Regions from separate parts of the Homo sapiens genome. Here region 1 is linked to region 2. The links come from fine-mapping of genetic effects on gene expression. A gene starts in region 2. The other region holds a variant in brackets. All regions are shown on one strand. Distances are between the middles of the regions. Region 1 overlaps GNA13 (G protein subunit alpha 13). Region 2 holds the start of GNA13 (G protein subunit alpha 13).

The links. PIP is the estimated chance that this variant, and not a neighbour inherited with it, causes the effect.
Region 1: its variant is the best candidate, but not a certain one, in a credible set for the expression of GNA13 in tibial artery (GTEx, PIP 0.52).

What each region holds. Positions count from the first base shown.
Region 1 is chr17:65,005,873-65,011,400 of GRCh38, forward strand. GNA13 (G protein subunit alpha 13) reads right to left here. Exons shown (of 4, transcript NM_006572.6): 4 at 3,417-5,528. Among named protein-coding and RNA genes, the nearest start is that of GNA13, 48 kb to the right of the region's middle. The variant C/G (reference allele first, on the strand shown) is at 2,401.
Region 2 is chr17:65,053,808-65,058,807 of GRCh38, forward strand. It overlaps GNA13 (G protein subunit alpha 13), which reads right to left and starts at 2,933. Exons shown (of 4, transcript NM_006572.6): 1 at 2,504-2,933. The coding sequence starts at 2,786. RefSeq lists silencers at 2,171-2,430, 2,711-3,220.

The DNA.
Region 1 (5,528 bases), 48 kb before region 2:
GAACAAAATTTCAACTAAGTCTGATGGTAAAATCAGCTAGTTAAATCCTACAAAGCTTACAAGAACTGGGGATTTTCCACGTAGAATAATGTGAAAGTAAAACGAAACAACTTTTTCTCCCCCCAAGGTCAGCAGTGCTTAGCCTTCAGTTCATCTTATGTTCTGTCTCCCCTTCAGCAGTTGGCAGGGGCAGAAAATCAAGCGTGTCTAAAGCGGCAGTCTAGGTCATTACGGAAGAATCATCGACTTTAAAAAAGACATGATAGCTTCTGTTTTCCTACCATGAACCTTCATGGGGAAAAGAAAAAGCAACATACTCCTCCACTCAGTATAAATGTTAATTCTGGACACAACTTCCCTCAGTATTCTTGTGGCAAACAGATAAGCTGAACACAGCCTCCTTGAATGGCTAATTTGTATCCCATACTTGTTTGAGCCTTTTGTTTTCTTGGTGTACTTCAAAGAAAAAGGAACACTGTGAAATATTCTTGCACAGCATTTTCGTGGATACCCCTTATGCCAACCACAATACCGTATTTCAGAGGCCCCACTAATTTCTGACGAAAAATTACATGTACTTTTATTTATTTACTTATTTATTTAGAGCCGGAGTCTCGCTCTGTTGCCCAGGCTGGAGTGCAGTGGCAAAATCTTGGCTCACTGCAACCTCCCCATCCCGGGTTAAAGTGATTCTCCTGCTTCAGCCTCCTGAGTTGCTGGGACTACAGGCACGTGCCACCACACCCGGCTAGTTTTTGTATTTTTAGTAGAGATAGGGTTTCACTGTGTTAGCCAGGCTGGTCTCGAATTCCTGACATCAGGTGATCCGCCAGCCTAGGCCTCCCAAAGTGCTGGGATTACAGGTGTGAGCCACCACTCCAGGCCTTTATTTTTATTTTAAATTTTTTTGAGATGGAGTTTCGCTTTGTCACCCAGGCTGGAGTGCAGTGGTGCGATCTTGGCTCATTGCAACCTCTGCTTCCCAGATACAAGCAATTCTCAGTACAGGCGCCCGCCACAGGTCTGGCTAATTTTTGTATTTTTAGTAGAGACGTGGTTTTACCATGTTGGCTAGGCTGGTCTTAAACTCCTGACCTCAAGTGATCCGCCCACCTTAGCCTCCCAAAGTGCTGGGATTACAGGCGGGAACCACCACGCCTGGCCTATAGCATGTATTTTAAAACACTGCCCTGGGCCATCTGCTTTTTGAGGATTTGCCAAATTTCCCAAGTCACCAAAACAGACCTCTAGTTTAACCTGTAAACCTTGAGTTTCCTATATTCTCAGGACCAAAAAGTCTCCCTTTTCGTTTTCAACAACCCACTCTGTGGGCAATGAAACAGGTCATTTTGGGAGAGCATCCTGTACTGACATGACATCCCACAGTGCCAATTAACCAGGATTGTGCCCACTTTGCTACACAATAGTTTGTATTGTTTCTTTTTACACAGATAAATATTCCCTTGTTCCAACAACAGCATAAAAAAGGTGTTTTTGTTTTTTAAATGACCTCTTGGTTTGTTTGGGGATTCAAATGCTCAAGTGAGTCTAGTTTCAATTTTTAAAGATCTTAAATCTCTCCCAGAAAGACCTGTTTCCAAAGTCACAGATTTTTAGATGTTAAGAGTTAGACTCAAAGTCCAAATTTTCTAACCCAGTTTCTCTTGAGATCAACAGTAACATTTCATGTTAGAGGTGAGAACCTGGAGAAGAATTTTTATTTGCCAGAGAGGTTGGAACCAGAGCAGCTAGGAGCACAGCCAGCCATTACCTCCAGCCATTTCCTCACACCTGCTTTGCAACACCAAGAGAAAGCCCTTCATTCTGTTTAGGGGAAGAACAGTACAAGCACAGCTTTATCTATCTGTCTGTCTATCTATTTACTTAGAGACAAGGTCTGGATCTATCACCCGGGCTGGAGTGCAGTGGCGCGATCTTGGCTCACTGCAACTTCCACGGCCTCCCGAGTAGCTGGGGGACTACAGGCCCATGCCACCATGCCCACCTAATTTTTGTAAAGACGGGATTTCACCATGTTGCCCAGGCTGGTTTCAAACTCGTGAGCTCAAGTGATCCGCCAGCCTTGGCCTCCCAAAGTGCTGGGATTACAAGCGTGAGCCACCACGCCCAGCCATAGCTTTCAATACATGCCAGGTAAGAAAAGGCATAAAGATGCCAAGTGATTTGACAACTGCTAACTTAGCAGGAAAGCGTAAAGGGAAAAGATGAGTAGTAACCACAGAAGGTGTGCTTGACACGATTTGATAATGATACTTTCTCTCTCTGGTTCCCAGACCCATAACCCAGTCTAATCATGTGAAAAACACCAAATTTCAACAGATGGGCATTCTACAAAATACCTGACCAGTACTCCTCAAAACTGCCAAAGTCCTCAAGCCT[C/G]TAATCCCAGCAATTTGGGAGACCGAAGCAGGCAAATCGCTTGAGCTCAGGAGTTCCAGACCAGCCTGGGCAACATGGCGAAACTCTGTCTCTACTAAAAATACAAAAAGTAGCTGGGTGTGGTGGCACGCACCTGTAATCCCAGCTACTTGGGTGGCTGAGGCAGGAGAATCACTTGAACCTGGGAGGTGGGGGTTGCAGTGAGCTGAGATCGGGCCACTGCACTCCAGCCTGGGTGACAAAGGAGTGAGACCCTGTCTCAAAAAGAAAAAACAAACAAAAAACACCTGCCAAAGTAATCAAAAACAAAGTCTGAGATAAACAGGAGTCTGTTAACTACCAAGAAGAGCTGAAGGAGACATGACGAGCGAATGTAATGTCGTGTGCTGGATGGATCCTGGAACACAAGTAAGGCATTAGGGGAAAACTAAGGAAACAAGAACAAAGCATGGGCTTTAGTGAATAATGTTATCAGTATTGGTTCATTAATTATGACAAATGTACCAAAGTAATGCAAGGCGGTAACTACGGGAACTATTATAAGGGGTGTGGAGTATAGGGGAACTCTGTACTGTCTTGAAATTTTTCTGTAAATCATAATCTAACATGAAGTTTATTTTTTTAAAAAAGATGAGTGGTCAATGTTGGTTTGTCTCCAAACATTAATTACAACAGACGTAACAGAATTATTAATATTGTCGCAGCTGGATGAACTGAGCTCAGGTACACCCTAATACAGTTTCAGTGGCCATAAGAGGAGCAGAGAAAACAAGTGGTTTCTCTTCCCCTATTCCCTTGTCAAAACATATTAAGTGTCTGAGAACTTCCTTGGAAGAAGTCCACATCTCCATTTCTAGTAAGAAGTTTCTAGACTAATATTCAAGCCAAGTGGCATTGGGATTCTGCTGAAGTAGATTTGTGCCTTAACTCAGGCCCTAGATGAAACTTTTGCTTTCAAACTTTTAGTATCTGCTTTACATTTTACAATTACCAAACTGTTAAATAACATCATAGTATTGAATTGTTTACAAATGTTTATTAAATGTCAGTAATTTTTACAAAGCAAATATTAATAGCAAGAGGCAAATGTTTTGCAAAATATGTACAAAAGTAAAAAGCTGTAATGAACTAGCAACTCATTTTATAAAATCAAACCATTCTTTCCACTTTTAGACCTCCTTTAGAAATAATTTATTGCCCATCCTGAACTAAAGCACTGACAAAAAAATTTACAACAATTATCAGATAATGTGCTTAGTTCCTGGAAAGTTATAAAAAGATATATGTAAAAAAAAAATCCTAAGCCACAAATATTTTATAGAGCTAATACGAGTCATGTTTTGTTAGGTACAGTATCTACGGGGTTATTACAAAATATACTTTTTTATAAGGCTTCTTGTGGTAAATGAGCTCTCACCAGAGTAGAGTAGTTTAGAAAAGCCATTTCAAACGTTTTGCGATTCTGCCTTCAAGTAAGAGGTAAAAGGTAAATGGCATAGTTTGTTGCACTGTTGCTTATACTGTGCAAGAATTAATCTCTACCCCTTTCTTTCCTAGTACCATCAAACAGGCATGATTAAGGACAATTTCTCACTTACTATGGCAAAAAATATTATATACAAGCTTTCTTAACACAAACCAAAGTCACATACCAAGTAGTATATGACGTTCAGTGATATTCACTGACTGAAATTTTATGCACACTGAGTTCCAGCATACTCTGATCCACCTGTAAACTTTCATCATCAACAGCAGATTTGTATATGTCACAAAACTCTCCTTATCAAGACATAAAATATTGCCATATCATTCATGCTTTCAAAACAATGTTCATATAAGCTCTCGCATTTGAAACCAGATGGTAAGACCTGAATGCTACAAGAGTGAACATAACTTAAATGCTAACTACACGTTCAAGTACAGACATAAGAATGCTAGTGGTACAAACACTGTACTCCAAATGATGTTGTTAATCACCTACCAGCCTAAGACTAGTATCTACTTGATGGAACTTGAAAAAGCCATAAAGTCCAACTTGTTTAAAATGTTCAGACTTAGACTTACACTTCAAGATCTAGTATACATTTATTAATAAGCCCTAACCTCGTACCATAAAAAAATGGGCATGTGCTGTATTTGGGACATGCGGACACACCCACACCCACCCACAATCTCTCCCCTCCTCATGTTTACTAGACTGAAAAGCCACCCTGTATCCTATCATTAAAAAACAAAACAAAACAAAACAAAACAGTGCTTTTAGTCAAGCAGCACAACACAAGGACAGATCATCTGTGATTAACAGAAGCGAACGCCTTAAAATGATGGGAGAGAGACAAATTAACTAGGTACTAAGTCAGATTTCCAAGTGAAAAAGACATGAGCAAAACTTCTGGTCTTAATTTCTCAAATAAAACTAAAATAAATGAAATGGTAACAGAGTGACTTTCTCTAAATTTATTAGGGAGTTTGTTACAAATGTTTGGGCTTTACAGGCATGATTTCACGGATTCAAACAAGAAATTAACACTGATATTTAGCCTTCTCATGACATACACAGAAATAACATTGCTACAAACTGCAATGGAGAGAATCTTGTTTCAAATGGCTTAGTTTGGGGTTTTGTCTAAATGTATCATTATATAATGAAAGCACCAATTTGAGGGTTTCTCAAATAGTGATTTGAATTTTAGGACATAACAGTGTAACATGGTAACTTTATTCTTCATATATAAATAAGGCATAATCGGATGTGTATTAATGCTGAAAATACATTTTATCAAAAGCATAAATACAAGTATTTGGGTACACATTGAAAGTTAGGACTTAACCAATTTCTTCTTACAAAAAATGATAAGGACATATGGTATTTGTTGAATCTAAATCAGCACTTCTAATCATTTCTGGTATTAAGGCGATCTTATTTCCTTCTACTTTAAACCAACCACTGCCACCAACTGAATAAGGATTTCCCTAAACAGCCTCAATTTGAGAGACTAACCAGAGGACCTTCTCTATGCAAATTACATGCCAATACACCTTAAAAGAAAATAAGACAAAAGTGAATGAGTTTTTTCATTCCATATTGCTTTCTTTGGTTGCAGAGCAATCCAGTGCCCTTTCCAGAT
Region 2 (5,000 bases):
CCTTATACTTCTGAATTAACCTAGACAAACCTTCTTCAAAAATGAAGACCAACATCGAAAACAAATGTAACTTCTCAGAGGTTAAAAAAAATAACAGTTGCTCACTGTCTTAAAATTAGAGCCTTGAAAAGCAAATACTATTAGCACAATTCCTCTCTCTGAAGGATTTTTAACATGTTCCAATTTATAAAATAACTTCTAGGATAGAAGGTAGTCAAAAAACAATCTAACTCAAGAAAGAAAAAGAAGTTATGCTGCACAGACCAACAATGTCCAAGCTCAGAAGAAAACAGACACAACCAAGGTTTTATGAGCCTAAAAGATGTTCATTTATGAAACACTAAGAACCAACTACTATAGCTCCATGTTCTGTTTGTTGCTTCGGCACCCTAACCCAACATTGAGTCTTCTAGCAACACATTCAAAATTTAAAAACTTCTTCCAGCCCAAGTTTCAATCCAGTTTAAGTTACAGGATGGCCTTCAATTTCCCTAAAAGGGAGGAAGATCAACTGCAAAATAATACAAAGTCGGACTCCAACTCACAGAGGTTAGTTGAAACTCATTTTTCCTATCACTGATCTATTACTTTTATTAAGTTTGATCAATCTGAACAGTCACTTGGCTATTAGGAAGTCATCTGAATAACTGAAAAACGGGTGGGGTTTTTTTGTTTTTGTTTTTTAATAGAGACGAGGTCTGGCTATGTAGCCCAGCTGGTCTGGAACTCCTGGGCTCAAGCCATCCTCCCACTTTGGCCTCCCAAAGTGCTGGGATTGCAGGAGTGAGCCACCACGCCCAGCCTGAGAAACTGTTCTACTGTCAAATTTCATGTCAACTTGAAAAAACTAGATTCCTGATGACTTACATCATCTCATAATCAATGCTCAACGTAGATCACACTTACAACTCAGTGTACATTAAGAACGAGGTGTTTACCAGGCTCACAGTCAGTTAACATGTTGATGCTATTCATTAACATAATTCCTTAAGTTCAGCTGCATCAGGTTACAAAGGTACCTTCAATTAAGGACTGTCAAGGCAGAGTCTGCAGCCTTGAAAGAGACCTTAATTAGTTTTGAGCTAAACATTACAGCAGGATAAATACAACTGTTCTTTATAGTTTAACTGCAGAGGTACTAGGGCTAGAGCTGGCTGTGGTCTAGTGATTCTCTCTAATTCATTACTCCATAATGCCTGGCTCTTCAGGCAGTTTTCCTTTACCCAAACGCTGGAAGCTCGGGAGGCGGTTGGCGGGGAGGGGGCGGGGGGGTGACATGCAGAAGTCCCTTATGTACTTCCTGAACAAAAATCCCACTTAAAAAGACCTGCAATCTGTAGCAAACTCCTAAACTGCTCCCCAGATAAAATAAAATCCAGATGCACCTGAGTTACCAGGCGCTGCACCTAAATTTTGCCAAAATGCCTTTTCTATAGAACATACTTGACACGCAGAAACGAGTGTTAATTATCTTTCAAATGACAAAATAAAAACCATCTTTTCGATTTCTTTGAATGCCCAGAAATAAACAACTTGTTTATTTTTCACTTAAGAACAAAGTTTAATTTTAAAACTACTGTCAATAAAGAGCCGAGCCAATTATCTAACTCAACACTCATTCATTGTCTCCATCTGTACAGGATCCACATGACTTTTAGGCCAGTCTTCTTACTACTACATTTCATCTAAATAGAAGCAGTGGTACTCCCTTCCTGCCAGCCCCCAGTTACTTAGCGAAAAGGAGAGTGGAACGTGTTGCACAGAAATCACACGCAAACATCCTACCTGACCGTGACACTGGGGCGAAAAAGCACAGATGCTACATTTTCATGCTAACTGTATGGGTCCACTCTCTCCTGATTCCAGTACAGTCAACCTGACACTCCTCAAGTTTCATATTCTCGCCCAAAAGGAGGCTGTCACCCTACGCCCTTGACAAGAAGTCTCGGGCAAAAAGTTCCCTTATTGCGACGGTTCCAGAACTCGCTTGCTTAGGAGACGGCCAAGGAAGCAGGGAGTTGGGAGCGCATGCGACCCCATGTGACTCGGGTCACCCAGCCAGGGTAGCGAGGTTCGGCCCACATCGCCCGAGCAGGGGATGGGGGTGAAGCGGCTAGGGCTGCTATTGGTGTTCCTGCCTCATCCGCAGCGGGGAGGACAGGAGAGGTCTGCCCACACCCCGAGGCAGCACCCAGCTCGCCCCACTTCCCTCTCGCAGGGGGAGAGACCAGGACGCGGTGGGGGGTGGGGGAATGGCCGTGACGCCCACCGGGGAGACAAGCGGGAGAGCAGGGCGACCCCGAGCATCCTCTCGCCCTGGGGCGCGAGGGCACCCCGGGCGGGCAGGGCCAGTTGCCGGGGCGCGCCCCCTTCCCGCCAGCCCGCCCGCCGGGCCCGTTCCTTCGCCAGCGACACAGCGGACCAGGGCGGTGCCCCGCCCCGCACCCGCCGCCGCCCCAGCCCCCCTGCCCTTAACCCCCGGCCCCCATTCCCGGCCCGGCACCTTTGATCACGTTGCTGTAGATGGTGGGGCGGAACTCCTCGCGCGCGCGCTGGTCGAAGTCCTGCCCGTGGATGATCCGCATCTGCTTCAGGAAGGTGGACTTGCCGCTCTCGCCCGCGCCCAGCAGCAGGATCTTCACCAGCCGCTTCACATAGGTCTTTTCCCGAGACAGGCATTTGTCGATCTCCTTGGACTTGCGTTGCTGCTCGGCCTCGCCACTCGTCAGCAGGCAGCCGGGGAAGCACACGGACAGCACGGACCGCGACGGCAGGAAGTCCGCCATCTTGCCGCCGCCGCCGCCGCCTCGGCGGGCCCCTCCGGCTCCCTCCACCTCCTCCTCCGGCGGCGGGCGGCTCCGGCACCGAGGCTCGAGGGCGGGGAGCGCGGCGGCGGCCCGAGCGCGCCCAGGGAGGGAGGGAACCAGCGAACTGACTCGCAGGGCGGGCCGGGCAGGGCGGGCCAGGACAGCGGGGGAGGGAGGGAGGGAAGGAGGGCGGGCCCGGCCCCGGAGGGGCGGTGGCCCCGGAGCGTGCGCGCTCCCGCTGCCTCCCGGAGGCGCGCTCGCACGCCGCGGCCGCTTCTCCGCCTCCCGCCCTGGGCGGCGAGTCACGAGCTCGATGTGTCGCTCGGGTGCCCGCGCCCGCAGCCGCGGCCGGGCGCGCGGGGAGGGCTGAGGAACCGCGGTCACGTGGGCCAGGCTGGGGAGCCCGACTTTCTGTTTCCCTTTCATGGCCTGAGCCCACTTGTGGGCAGAAGGGCTCCTTCCCCAAGGCCGGGAGGCCGGAGACCAGGTCCCGGACGCGGTTCTTTGGGCTCCCACTTAGCCTCCCTTTCTCCCGCGTTGCGCGCCCGCTGCCCGCTGTCACCGCCCACCCGACCCATTTCGAGGCCACGGACTCGAAAGTTATTCGAACAGAACAGCCGGCGTGAGCCTGGCAGGCCTTTGGTGCATTTTCTTTATTTCATTTTATTTTTTCTCTTTTGAGACGGAGTCTCACCCTGTCGCCCAGGCTGGAGTGCATTGGCTCGATCTCGACTCACTGCAACCTCCGCCTCCCAGGTTCAAGCCATCCTTCCGCCTCAGCCTCCCGAGTAGCTGGGAGTACAGGCGTGTGCCATCATACCCGGCTAAATTTTTTGTATTTATTTTTAGATACAGGGGCTCCCCCCTATGTTGCCCAGGCTGGTCTCGAACTCCTGAGCTCAAGCGATCCTCTAGCCTCGGCCTCCCACAGTGCGGGGATTCCAGACAGAGCCACCAGGCCCAGGCCTGGTGTGTTTTCTTAAAGTGACTCCCTTGACCTTCTAGTCTCCGAATCCCAGAACGGTAACCAGACGTCGTCCACCCCCACTTCCAGCTCTTTCTGGCATTTTCAGACCCCTACCAGGGCTCTCTGTGAGGGGAAAGAACTGGAGTTGATGTTCACTTGAGACGTGCTACCAGGGGCATTTAATGGCTCACTCGTGCATTCCACCTGGGCTGTGATGTGACTTCAGGGACGCTTGGCCGCGCCGGAATTAGCGAGTGGCAGCAGGAGGGTGAGGTCATGGTGAAAATCCCCTACACCGGACACTGTGATGTAGGCTCTTCCCAACAAGGAAGCAGATACACAAACACAACGAGGAATGGGAGCACGCAAATTTTAGCTTTCCTGCCAGATTACAGAGGATATGACCCGTCCAGGGACTTTTTTTCTGTCCTAACAGCAGATTCAGGCCAGGACACCTGAAAGGAGGCCAGGAGACAAGCCACAAGTGACAGCTGTGGGTTGGCAGAGAAACTGCTTAACCGGGACCCCCGAGAGCCGACCTCTTCATTCTTAGTATTTAGTTTCAAGTGGAAAAAGCCACTTTGGTCTGTCCCTGTTTTGGGCAATGCAACGTAGCTTTGGGCTCCTGTGGCTCAGAAACTTCGTATGTATAAGGGAGCGGAGGTAAGAGGTCAGCATTCCAAGAAACTCCCGAACAGGTTTAAATTTTAAAATCGGTACTAATCAGTTACTCCCTGGGGTTGGGTTAATGACCGAGAAGCCTCGACTCAGTAGATTGGCTGCAGTAAACAATGCCTGTAGTAGGATTATCTCCTGTGGCTCTGGCAAGCCCAGAGGGTGGACAACCTACAATATACAAGTAGAGTAGGCTCACCTCCAATATCTGTGGATTGATAAGAGTCAGAATCACTGAGCAGTGCTGTCAGGCAAAATATATGGTAAAAGCCTGCCCTGGATGGAGAATTTTTCCATCATCTCATCTAGTGTTTGGGAGGCCCTGTTCTCTAACCATGCAAGGACTCGCCTCTCCCAGGATTGGGGCATAGAACCTGTCCCCGAGCACTGTTTCTGCATTGACCCCAGGTGCTAATCTGAACTCCAACAAAGAGGAGAGAAACTTGTAAGTTAGGTAGTTAACATCTTTTTTCAGAAGTGTGTGTAATATAATGGAAAACCAAGAATGCCTAGGAGGCAGGAAGGTATTCCTGCCCAGCCAGTTCATGTCG